2 separate regions of the Homo sapiens genome follow, and region 2 is linked to region 1. The links come from fine-mapping of genetic effects on gene expression. Tissue or cell type: whole blood. Region 1 holds a variant in brackets; the other region holds the start of a gene. All regions are shown on one strand. Distances are from middle to middle.

What was found. PIP is the estimated chance that this variant, and not a neighbour inherited with it, causes the effect.
Region 2: CD24 starts here. The variant in region 1 is fine-mapped to the expression of CD24 in whole blood (TOPMed, PIP above 0.99). The same link has a PIP of 0.9 or more in blood mononuclear cells.

The regions. Positions count from the first base shown.
Region 1 is chr6:106,713,625-106,719,274 of GRCh38, reverse strand. LINC02532 (long intergenic non-protein coding RNA 2532) reads left to right here. Exons shown (of 7, transcript NR_033557.2): 7 at 1,033-1,823. LOC105377927 (a long non-coding RNA gene) reads right to left here. Exons shown (of 4, transcript XR_942841.3): 3 at 5,188-5,331; 4 at 2,763-3,040. Among named protein-coding and RNA genes, the nearest start is that of LINC02526, 21 kb to the right of the region's middle. The variant T/C (reference allele first, on the strand shown) is at 3,074.
Region 2 is chr6:106,972,271-106,977,920 of GRCh38, reverse strand. It overlaps CD24 (CD24 molecule), which reads left to right and starts at 3,192. Exons shown (of 2, transcript NM_001359084.1): 1 at 3,192-3,343. The coding sequence starts at 3,275. RefSeq lists silencers at 2,431-2,650, 2,691-2,840.

The sequences.
Region 1 (5,650 bases):
CAAATAATCAAAATATAATTTTCACCTGTGATTTTGGCATAGAGACCATGGGTACCTGAGGCCAGGATGGGGTTACAGAAGAAAGAGAATGAGAAGAACATCATCACAAAAAATGTTTCTCCTGGGCAAGTTATCCCCTGAGTAGAGAGGCTGGGGCATCCTTCTGCTGGAAGGGTTTGGGCTGATGAAAGCTGATTCCCAGAAAATAAGTGATGACCAATCAGGAGGGGTCAGGTTTCTAAGGGCCAGATGCAGGAGGGCGTCCTCACTTATAAGACTGAGGAAGTGGTGTACGTGCAGACTGACTTAGAAAATTTTACTGAGCCAGTCAGCTCCAAAACACAAAGAGATACACTTTTGCCCTTATACTTTTAGGGTGGGTAGGCCTCCCGCAAAGCACACACTTGGAGACCATGCCTCCAGCCATTCTGTCTTTTGGCCTGGTGTGTATATGAAGGAAGAGGCAGCTACAGGCAGGCTTTGTTTTCCTTTTTTCAGTTTGGAACATTTAGAAGCAGATAAATTGGCATAAAGCAAACATAATTACATGTTAACTTCAAAGAGGGAAAATATCACGTACATTAAATTCCGTAACCTGCCATGAAGGAAATTATTCATGTTGACCTAATTTTATTTCTGATCTACCTACCATAGTTTAGAATAAAAATGTTGGTTGATTTTATAACTCAATGCTTTTATTGGAAAACAAGGTTTTTAAGTGGCAATATACTTCTGAATAGAATATGCATTGTCCCAACAGTGTATTTTACAAGTAACTGATAGCTATGGATAATGAGTGGCCACTTTGGAAGGGCATTTAACATCTTCTTAAAAAGTAAAACTATAGGCTCATTCATTTTTGTCTTTATTTAATTTTTTATATTTTATTGTTATTATTATTCATTTATTATTATTAATCATGGTTTCTTTACCTTCTTGTTTTCATGCATTTACTCAATCAAGTATCTCAGTTTCTGGTTAGAGCAATATTATTTTCACTCTTTCATTAATTTCTGGTTTATTTTATTTTAGGTGCTAGAGATGACACTGCAGAGTAGAGAACAAAGGAATCTTAGTAATTGTTCAATCCAATCTCCACACTTTAAAGATGAAGAAACTGGTATTGAGAAAAATACACAGCTTATCCAAGGTTGCACTGCTGGTTGGTAGCTGAGATGAATTTAGAACCCACATCTGATGACTACACCATATTGCTCCCAGTTTTCCTGTCTGTTCCACATGTAAAAGTCTGACTCTTCACTTCTCCTTTGAGTATATAGACTTTTAACATTTTTGTATGTCAAGATGGACTTTTCCTCATACCCAGCCCCTGCCTTTTCTCCTCCCTTCATACCTTGCAGGATCTTTAACAGAATTTAAAAGGAGTTTTTTGTTTTGTTTTGATGTATCTAATAAAAGTCAAGGGAGGGAGAGGGCCAGTATAAGCAAGAGTACAGTTTCCTAGTTTGTAGATGCGGTAGTCTGAGGAATCAGAAACACACAAAGGTTTGGAGAACTGGTACATGCTCCCAGGTGGGAAGCCAGGACTCTTGGTAGGATCTTGAGGACAAGGCAAAGGACAATAAGAGAGCGAGGGGATCCTAGAGGTGGAATCAAGGAAGAGAAACTAGAGAGAGAAAAAGGAACTGGCTATCCATCCATGATGGATCCTGTGTGGACTGATGGGTGGCTTGGCATCATCCTTTAGTAGACTTCATGTGGTTGAATAATTGGCCAATGGAAGGAATTTCTTTTTTGGTAACAGACTCTGTGTGTACAGTTATGGGTCTTAATTTATAATAAAAGGTTACATTGAAAATTGAGCATATTGGCAACTTTGGGCTTTAATATTACTACTGTGCTATTTAGGTCCCAACCATCCTAGCTAATCTGGGCATTCTTGAAACAGCTCTCATTATTGGTATGTCAAACCGTCTCATAGGGCATGTACTTAACAAAAGTGGAGTGAAGGGTTCAGGATGCATAAATGGGGTGAAGCTCGTGGTATTCCATTCCTTTTTACTGAAGCCACTCCTACCAGCTGCCTTCTAGATTGTTCACCTTATATGAGCATGGTGCAGTATAGAAGTTGTAGACTTTGGCCTCAGACAGATCTAAATTCTAATCTCAGATCACTACTTCCTGGTTGAGGACAAGATTTCTTTAACCACCCCAAGTCCCAATTTTCTCATGTCTAAAATGGCAGAAATAATGTGTACTTTGCAGGGTTGTTGTGAGAGTTAAGTAATATGGGTAATGCACTTGGGACAGTGCTTCACACAAAATTGTCAGTAAATGGTGATCTTTCTTTTCCTGGCACTACAAAGCTGAGGAGAGGAGGGAGGGAGGGAGATGAATGTCTGGAGGAAGAAAGGGCAGGAGTTTCTTCATCTTTGAGTGAAGGAGCATTGAGGGTTAGCAGGGATATAGGAATAGTGAGTTGGCTGGGAAGAAAAAAAGGATTAAAAGAGGAAAAGAATAGGAAAAAAGAAGGATACCATGGAGAAAATGGGCAACGGCCCCAGAAAGAAGAGCAAGAATGGCAGTGATGGTGAGCATTGCTGGAATGATGGAAGGTTCTCCGGCCCCGGTGATGCGTGGGCACCACCGGAGAGCTTGTTAGAAATGCAGAGTCTCTGTCCCTCCCCAGACCCTCTGAATCATAATTTGCAATTTAATGAGAGGTCCCCAGGTGATTCCCATATCCATTAATTCTGCAGAGTTGATGTTTTCATCTGCGGTGGCGGGGGGCGGGGGGGGGGGGTGCGGTGGGGGTGCGGCAGGTGTTCAGCAGATTCAAATCAAGAGGAAGTCCCCAAGGGCTTTAGGTTATCTCTAAATTTATCAGGAAGACTTCCCATCGAAGTGGGTTGAGATCCAGGATGTGTCACTTTCCTTTGTATTCTGATCTGGCTGGTCTGGACAGAGGTTCTGCAAACCAGAGTCATGCTGTGGACTCAGGGATTCTTGGAACTTCTCGTCTGAATCCAAAGTAGCAGGTGTGAAGGAACAAGGAAGTGGAGTGGTGAACATTATTTGTCTATAGAGGAAACAGGAAGAGAATGGGGATTCT[T/C]CTTTTAGACACATCTGGCAAGTGAGGCAGTCATCCTGCACCGCACCCTCCTCCCTGCGCCTTCAGCTCCCGGTGCCCTACCTTTTCTCTGAGCAACAGAAGCACTTTTGTCTGCATTTAGGTTGCTCATCACTGGTGCATTGGAAAGAACACTGGGCTAATGCCTTCGGGCAAGCCACTTCACCACCCTGGCTCCAGTCTCCTCATATGCAAGAAGGGCTTAAAATTGTGATGGTAGGTGCCCAGGGTTTCCCAGTGCAGTGGGGACTGGAACTGTGGTCTTCTGGTGACTGTTTCTACCTTATGGTACTCTCAAGTCAGCAGGTAGCCAGGTGATAAAAGGGAAAGAAGCTGCTGGGTGTAAAATTAAAAAGCGGCCCTCCCCTGGGGCCAGCGGGAGCGCAGAAACAGTTGCTGTTCAGTCTTGCCACTTGTCAGCATGAGGGAATTTGGGCCCAGGATAGCCAGACAATCTTTTTTTCCAAGAAAAACTAGAAGTCCAGACTTTTCTGTTAGATTTTCTTAGTTTTTTTTAGAGACTCTGAATTCATTAAACACACACACACACACACACACACACACACACACACACACACACAAAATGAGAAAACCTGCTGCTCATACAAAACAAATCTGAGGGCAGAGTTTTGAAGACTGGCAGTGAATTCATTGAAAAAAACAAAAACAAAAACACAATGAAAAAACCTGCTGCTCATACAAAACAAATCTGAGGGCTGCAGCAGCTCACAGGATGCCAGTGTGTGACGTCTTTCCTAAGTCTTTTAAAAGAGAATTGACATTTTCATTAGACTTGAAATAGGTAAACAGGACAAAGACTCTGGAGTAGCTGCTTACCCCAGTATGGCAGGCCCTGGCAATGCCTCCCCCAGGGATATAAAAACATGGATTTCGCTGGTTGTGGTGGCTCACCCCTGTAATCCCAACACTCTGGGAGGCCTAGTCGGGTGGATCATCTGAGGTCAGGAGTTTGAGACCAGCCTGGCCAACACGGTGAAATCCCGTCTCTACTAAAAATACAAAAAAATTAGCCAGGCATGGTGGTGCACGCCTATAATCCCAGCTACTCAGGAGGCTGAGGCAGGAGAATCGCTTGTATCTGGGAGGCGAAGGTTGCAGTGACCCAAGATCGCGCAATTGCACTCCAGCCTGGGCAAGAGGAGCGAAACTCTGTCTCAAAAAAAACAAAAACAAAAACAAAATCACACATACATACGGATTTGCCCTTCTTGATGGACACAGTTTGAATAAAATATAGTTGCCATACCCTTTCCATTGCAACTAAACATAAAAATACAAGAATATTCAATAAGTCATACACTATGGGATGAAAAGAGCATGTCATAATTAGCTGATTAACCACTGTCATCCTCTTGTCATATGCTGATACATGAGTAATGTATGTTTGGATTATTGATTGCATCCAAGCTAGGATTCCTTTGTGGCATCAGCAGAAGGACACGGTGACCACAGAGGTCCACCTCAAGTTACTACCTTTTGTGAAGTGATAATGGGGTGCACAGCCAGGTGTAATTCAAGCACATCTTCCTACAGGCAGTGGGTGGTTATGGCTGCACTGCTGTCGCTGTATTGCTTGCAGCCTTAATGGGAATCTTTATTGAAACGGAAATCTAATTCCATTTAGGTTAATAATATGCTCACTCAATCTTCCTTCCCAGAACTAGCCTGATCTTTACACCTTCTGAGGGGAAACTGGCAGTGATTCCTCACTGCAGGTGGATATCTCATCAGATAAAGCAGGGTTAGGAAAAATTTACATTTTTACTCCAAGCCATTTTGGTTGCTTTTTTTCATAATGAAAGTGCAGTAACTCTCTCTTATCTCTGCATGCAGTGGTGGTAAAAATGTGTAGGACCACAGTAGTTGGCATTTGTCTCCCAGATAGGCCAGCCTGAAACTTGGGAGTGGAATGAGCTTGTATTCAAGCTGTTGTTAACCAGGACTGTAGCTATTCATTCCAGCTCTACTCTTTTCATCCAGGCTATTGCATGATCAATGGCTATGGGAATAACTTACAGGGCCAAAAGAGGGTTCTGGGAATGTGATAATTTGGATGCAATTTCTATCTTTCCCACCTCCGACTCCAAAAGTTCTTCCTTCTGGACTCAAACAGCTGCTAACTCCTGTGGATGGCTGGGTGCCAGTGAGGCCTCAGGCTTTGGTGGGTTCCAAGCATACAGAATTGTAAGCTTCCTTCTTCCAGTGGGCTGGGCAGGTGCCTAGAGAATAATGTCAAAGGTGAACAAGGGAAGACAGTCAATCCTGAGTGGAGAGGGGCTGTCAGGGCTAATGTCAACACAAGCCTAGTGTGACTGTGCTGGGTTTTCCTAGCTGAAGGGGCCAAGGAGGAGCTGAATGGGAGACTGAGTCCTCTACCTGGAAGCTGGGGCAGTGTGAGAAGTTTGGGGAGTTTCCTACAGGTGATTAGCAGGGGGCTGGCGGCTTCTACAATTCAGTCTGTGGGGACCTTCTGCCACCCATGGGGCTCCCGCCACTTAGAACACACAAGCCACCAAACCCTGAGACCTATGAGCCCAC
Region 2 (5,650 bases), 260 kb before region 1:
ATCCAGGCTGGAGTGCAGTGGCACGATCTTGGGTCACTGCAACCTCCGCCTTCTGGGTTCAAGCGATTCTCCTGCCTCAGCCTCCCGAGTAGCTGGGACTACAGGCGTGTGCCACCATGCCCAGGTAATTTTTTGTATTTTTAGTAGAGACGGGGTTTCATCATGTTAGCCAGGATGGTCTCGATCTCCTGACCATGTGATCTGCCTGCCTCGGCCTCCCAAAGTGCTGGGATTATAGGCGTGAGCCACTGCACCCAGCCGTGGCTCAGGTTTTATTAGCAAACAAACTATGAAAAACCAGGAGAAGTGGATAAAGAATAGGAAGAAAGAATCACAAGCCAAAAGAACTGCAAAGGAAAAATCAGGCAGTTTTCTTGAGTTTCTAGCTGTACAGGAAAAGGGTAGGGTGGAGACCTGTAAAGAGAAGTATCTTACCTGTGTTGGGCCTCCAGTTGTCAAAGTCCTGGGCAACACCCCCGGTAGGATGCCCAGGGGGAACTCCTGGGCAGAGGTGAAGGGCTTTGCTACGTGAATTATCCAGTCTCATTAGCTGGTGATGAAATGGTTCACAAAGCACAGATTCTGAGTGCCTTGCCAGTTTTGGGAATTATTTGGAGACTGATATTCTTTCACGTATCACACAGTGGCAGAGAAGGTAATTACCTTCTGGTTGCTGGCACCTTCAGTGGAAGAGCAAATATTAAGTGAGAGCTACTACTCTGAGGCAGGCAGTATTCTAACACTTATATATACAATAACTCTTTAATAACTAATTAGTAATGATGTTATTATCTCCATTTTATAGATGAAGGAACTGAGGCTTTTTGTCTCCAGCAAAATTAGCAGAGCCACGGTTTGAACTCTGGCAGTCTGTCTTTAGAGGCTGTCTTATCCTAGGAATACCACCAGTTAGTTCAACAAGCAGCTTGTGGAGGACATAGTATGTTCCTTGCCTTGGAACCCGGCACTCCTGAGTCACAAACAGTCCATTTTTTTCACCCGGAAAAGGAATGGAGAAGCTGGGCCAGACTATTTCTTTTTTCTTTTTTTTTTGAGACAGAGTTTTGCTCTTGTTGCCCAGGCTGGAATGCAATGGCCTGATCTCTGCTCACTGCAACCTCCACCTCTCAGGTTCAAGCTATTCTCCTGCCTCAGCCTCCCAAGTAGCTGGGATTACAGGTATGAGCAACCATGCATGGCTAATTTTGGATTTTTAGTAGAGACTAAATTTTAGTAGAGACTAGATTTTAGGTTTCACCATGTTGGTCAGGTTGGTCTGGAACTCCTGACCTCAGGTGATCAGCCCTCCTCAGCCTCCTAAAGTGCTGGGATTATAGGTGTGAGCCACCACGCCCGGCCAAAGTATTTCTATATAATGTGGTACACTGTTAAACAGGAAAGTCCACTGGTGCTCGACAGAAATTCTTGTGTTCCCAAGCACATCTTAAACGTGCTTGGAAAGTTACTGAGCTAAAGTGACTGACCTTGAAGGCACAAACCAATTCAGTCACTATTCAGTCAACAAACCTACTGCAGATTTCATTGTCACTTTGCTTCCCTGAAACTTACTTTGTTTTAATGAGACTGCCACGCAAAAGTGAAATTTAGACAAATTTAGAATCTTACTACTCTGTGGTTTACTTTAAAGACCGAAAAATGCTTGGGCTAAACCTTAAATAAAAGTATTAAGTCTTGCAATTAAAAATTGAACCAAAAATACTAACGAGAGTGTTCTGCAAAACTGAAATTTAAACAAATTTACAACCATACTAGGTTTGGTCTCTGCTGTTTGCTTTAAAGACTGAAAAACACTTGGGCTAAACCTTCAATAAAAAGATTAAGTCTTGCAATTAAAATTTAAACTCAAAATACTCCACCAGTAAAATTACTTCAACTTTTGTTGTATGCTTGAAAGTTTTCACAATAAGATGGATAGGAAAAAAGTATTCCACCAAAATCTAAAGAGTGATGACGAATCTCCTCTTTGTGCCGGTTCATTAAATTGCCTAATGGCAACTACGGATAAGTAAATGCCTTTATCTCGAACGGTTCTGCTCTTTAAACGAATGACGGGCAACAGAGACCGAAAAAGTGTATCCCCAGGAATTCGAGAGGGACGGTGAATTGTAGTGGGACCGCCAGGAGGGGAGGTTCCTGCCCCCGAGTAGAACCTGGGAGCAGAGCCGCTCGGGGAGGGCGGTGGGGGCTTCAGGGCCGCGGAGGGGGTCCCCTCAGGGTGGGCCGTCTCCTCCTCGCCCGCCGCAGGCAGGAGCGCGGGGGACCGAAACCCTGTAGTTTGCAGCGTCAGGCAGCGGGTCTGCGCCCAGCGAGCGGCTCCCCAGCTCCTGGGAAGATGCGGACCCGGGACGCCCCCGTGAGCTCACTGCGCCTGGCTGACACGAGGCGCTCACAGAACAAAGCAAGGGCTTCGGGGAGGGCGCGGCCGCGGGGCCGAGCGCGCAGATCGCTCCGGACCCGGACACCGCCTGCGAGGAGCGCCGACCAGCCGGGAAGGGTTCGCGCTAGGCGGCGCCCGGGTCCCGTCGGCCAGGGTGAGCGTCCGGCCCGCGTCCGCGCCACGCCCGCCGCGTTCCCCTTTCCTCTGCGGCGGGCCGAGAGATAACCCTGCCCGAGGGGTCCCGGCGCCCGCCCCCCACGCGGTCGCACTGGAATTCGCAGCCCCTCTCGGGTCCCCGGGGCGCATTTTGCAGTCTGAGTGGCAATGCACTTGCTCCAGGACAGGCGGCTACCCCGCCGCAGCGGAGGCGCGGACTTTTCTTTTGGGGGGTAAGATGGCAGGTCCCGGGAAACAAAGGAAACTTGGGCCCGGCCCCCAGCGCGGCGTGTGTGGCTCGCGTGTGTGCCCCGGGTCCTGTGCCGGAGGCGCTGGGCGCCTGTGCCAGCCTGCCCGCAGCCCGCAGCCGGCGCGGGGATACCAGCCGGGTACCAGCAGCCGGCGGCGCCCGCCCACCTGCAGCGGCGCCCGCCCGGGGGGCTCCCGGCCCGCGAGGGCCGGAGCGGCGGTGGCAGTGGCGGCGGCGGCGGGGGCGCTGGGGAACCCGGAGCGGGGCGGGGAAGGCGGGGAGGCGGCGGGCGGCGGCGGAGGGGAGCCGGGGTGGGCGGGCGGCGCCACGTCACGGCTATTGTGGCTTTCCTGGTATATAAGGTCTCGCCGGCTCGCCGCGCTCCCCACCTTGCCTGCGCCCGCCCGGAGCCAGCGGTTCTCCAAGCACCCAGCATCCTGCTAGACGCGCCGCGCACCGACGGAGGGGACATGGGCAGAGCAATGGTGGCCAGGCTCGGGCTGGGGCTGCTGCTGCTGGCACTGCTCCTACCCACGCAGGTGAGGCCCTGGCGCCCGGCGGGGCTCGAGGGCCGTTCCCGGGGTGGGGGCAGGGGAGATGGACCCGGTCCCGGGGGACCGTCCTGCGCTCCTGCCTCGGGCCACGGACAGGGACCGGGAGAGAATCTTGCTTAGCTGACCAGGGGAGAGGGCCATGTGGACCCCATTTTTCCATTCCCTTGCGTGCTGCCCCCCCTCCTCCCACGGCCCTGGGAACAATGCAGCTCCGCGTGCGGGCTGAGAGGACCCTGCCCCACCCCAGGTTCCACGCTGTCCCTTCCCAGGCAGCCAGGTGACTACTTCCCACTTTCACCCAGAGGCCCGAGGTGCCTGCAGGGATTAGCGCCTGGAGAGCTCGGGCTCCCTGGGGACGTTGTCCCTGGGTCCCTGAGGACTCGCTTTCCCCTAGGAATGTCTTCGCGCTCCCCGCGCTCTACACAAAGAGAGGCGACGGTCCCTTTCGGGGAGGGCGGCTCACGCCCATCCTCCACCCTCGGAGTTGGATTGGGTATCCCGGAGAAGCTACGGCTATCTGGCCCTTTTTAAACAAACCCCGGTTCCGGGCTGAAGCCGAGGCGGGGACCCTCTCCTGACGCTGCGCTCTCTGCGAGGCAACCTTTCACGTCCATCGCTTGTCATCTTAGGATCCCCATGTTATTTTAGCCCAGATTGGCTAGTTCTGGGGAGGCAGCATGGTGGGACGATTCTGTCCCGAGTCCCCGCCAGGCTTTGTTCGGGTCGCCGCTACCAGCGCGGTCTCCCTAGATCCTCCATCCGGGGAACCTCGCCCCGGGTGCGGGTACCCGGGGCCGCGCAGCGCTGCCTCGAGGGTGTATGGATGCACCGCGCCGGCGAGAGAGACCGGGGGCTGGGCCTGGGAGACCCTAGCGGGGGCGGGGGCGAAGAAGGTACGTTTGTTTGGGTCAGTTCGGGTTTGGAGGATGGGAGTGACGGCTCTCCAGCGCCTTCGATTGGGGTTAATCGAGGACTGTCACTGGGGCTTCTCCCCCAAAGTTGGGCGCGCTGCGTCCTCCGTCCCCAGACATCGAAAGTCCGGGCTCACCTGGGAGTGCAGCCTGAGTGTGGAACGCGCTTCCCCACCGCTGGCGGGGTAACCGTACCCTATTGTCTTCCTCCCAGTCCGCTGCGCTCCCGAGCCTTCCTCAATTCTTTGATGGGGGAGGGGCGCGGCTGCGAGAAACCGGCCCCCTCCACTCCCCGCCCCATCTTCTCTCCGACCAGATTTTTTTCCTCCAACATTGTAAGTGAGAAGTTTTAATAATGCGAATAAATCTAGCTTGGGAGAGAAAATTTTGTTTAGTGTCAGTTTAATAAACATAATTTTTTTGTTGGTGTAGAGGATCTTTAGATCCTCAGATTGATACACCAGGTTTTAAAAAGAAAACATCACCTGCTGCAGTAAAACTCATTGCATGAATAAAGAACAGGTTACTTTGCGGGATCCCAAACAAGGTGTCCAAAACAGGCACCCTGTTTTAAGTAAATTACCATATTAATGCTTTTCTTTATTGGGAGTGCCGTTTCCTGATGGGACACACTAAATCTTGCACACAGTAGGTGCCCGATAAATAAATTTGACTTGATCAAGATTTTTTTGTTGTTGTCACTAATCTATTTTGGATAGGATTTGTACATTTCTGTAGTCAATATTTGTTTAATGACCTTATGGATTTTACAACAAAAGGAGCTGGTGCTGATGTAGGAGGGCTTTATCTTTGGATTAATAGGCAGCCAAATGTACACGGGGCCCAGACTCTTGCCTGGTGCCACGTCCTCCCTCCAGCCTGTAATCAGAAGCTCTTGTAAACCCTCCCTTGCAGTGAGGGCTGAAAACTCCGATCTGCCTTTGTTCCATGACAAAGGAGAGATTATCACGTGCCCTACTGGACTGTGCATTTCGTGGCTTGAAAAATCAGTGGTGAATGATGCCACTCAGACGCTGGGACACTGGGAGAACCTTGGTTCTTGGCCACAGCAATGAGCTTGGCGACCAGTGAGGCTGCTGCTGGTGAAACTTAACACCATAACCTCTCGTTGTCTTTTGTGAAATCGTTCCGACTTCATGGTGTTTTCTTGAAGTCATTCTGCCTTAAAGGAAAAACTCATTTTCTTTTTCAATTTAACACAAATATTGTGGCCATTTTTTAGAAGAGTTACTATTTCAAATTTCAAGGGAGAAGATAAGACTGCATTTCCCCCTTAAGGAAAAGGCTAAGTTACCAAGGCTGTATTAAATTGAGTATGTGAAAGTTACCTAGCAAATCCAGGATAGACAGTGACCCAATG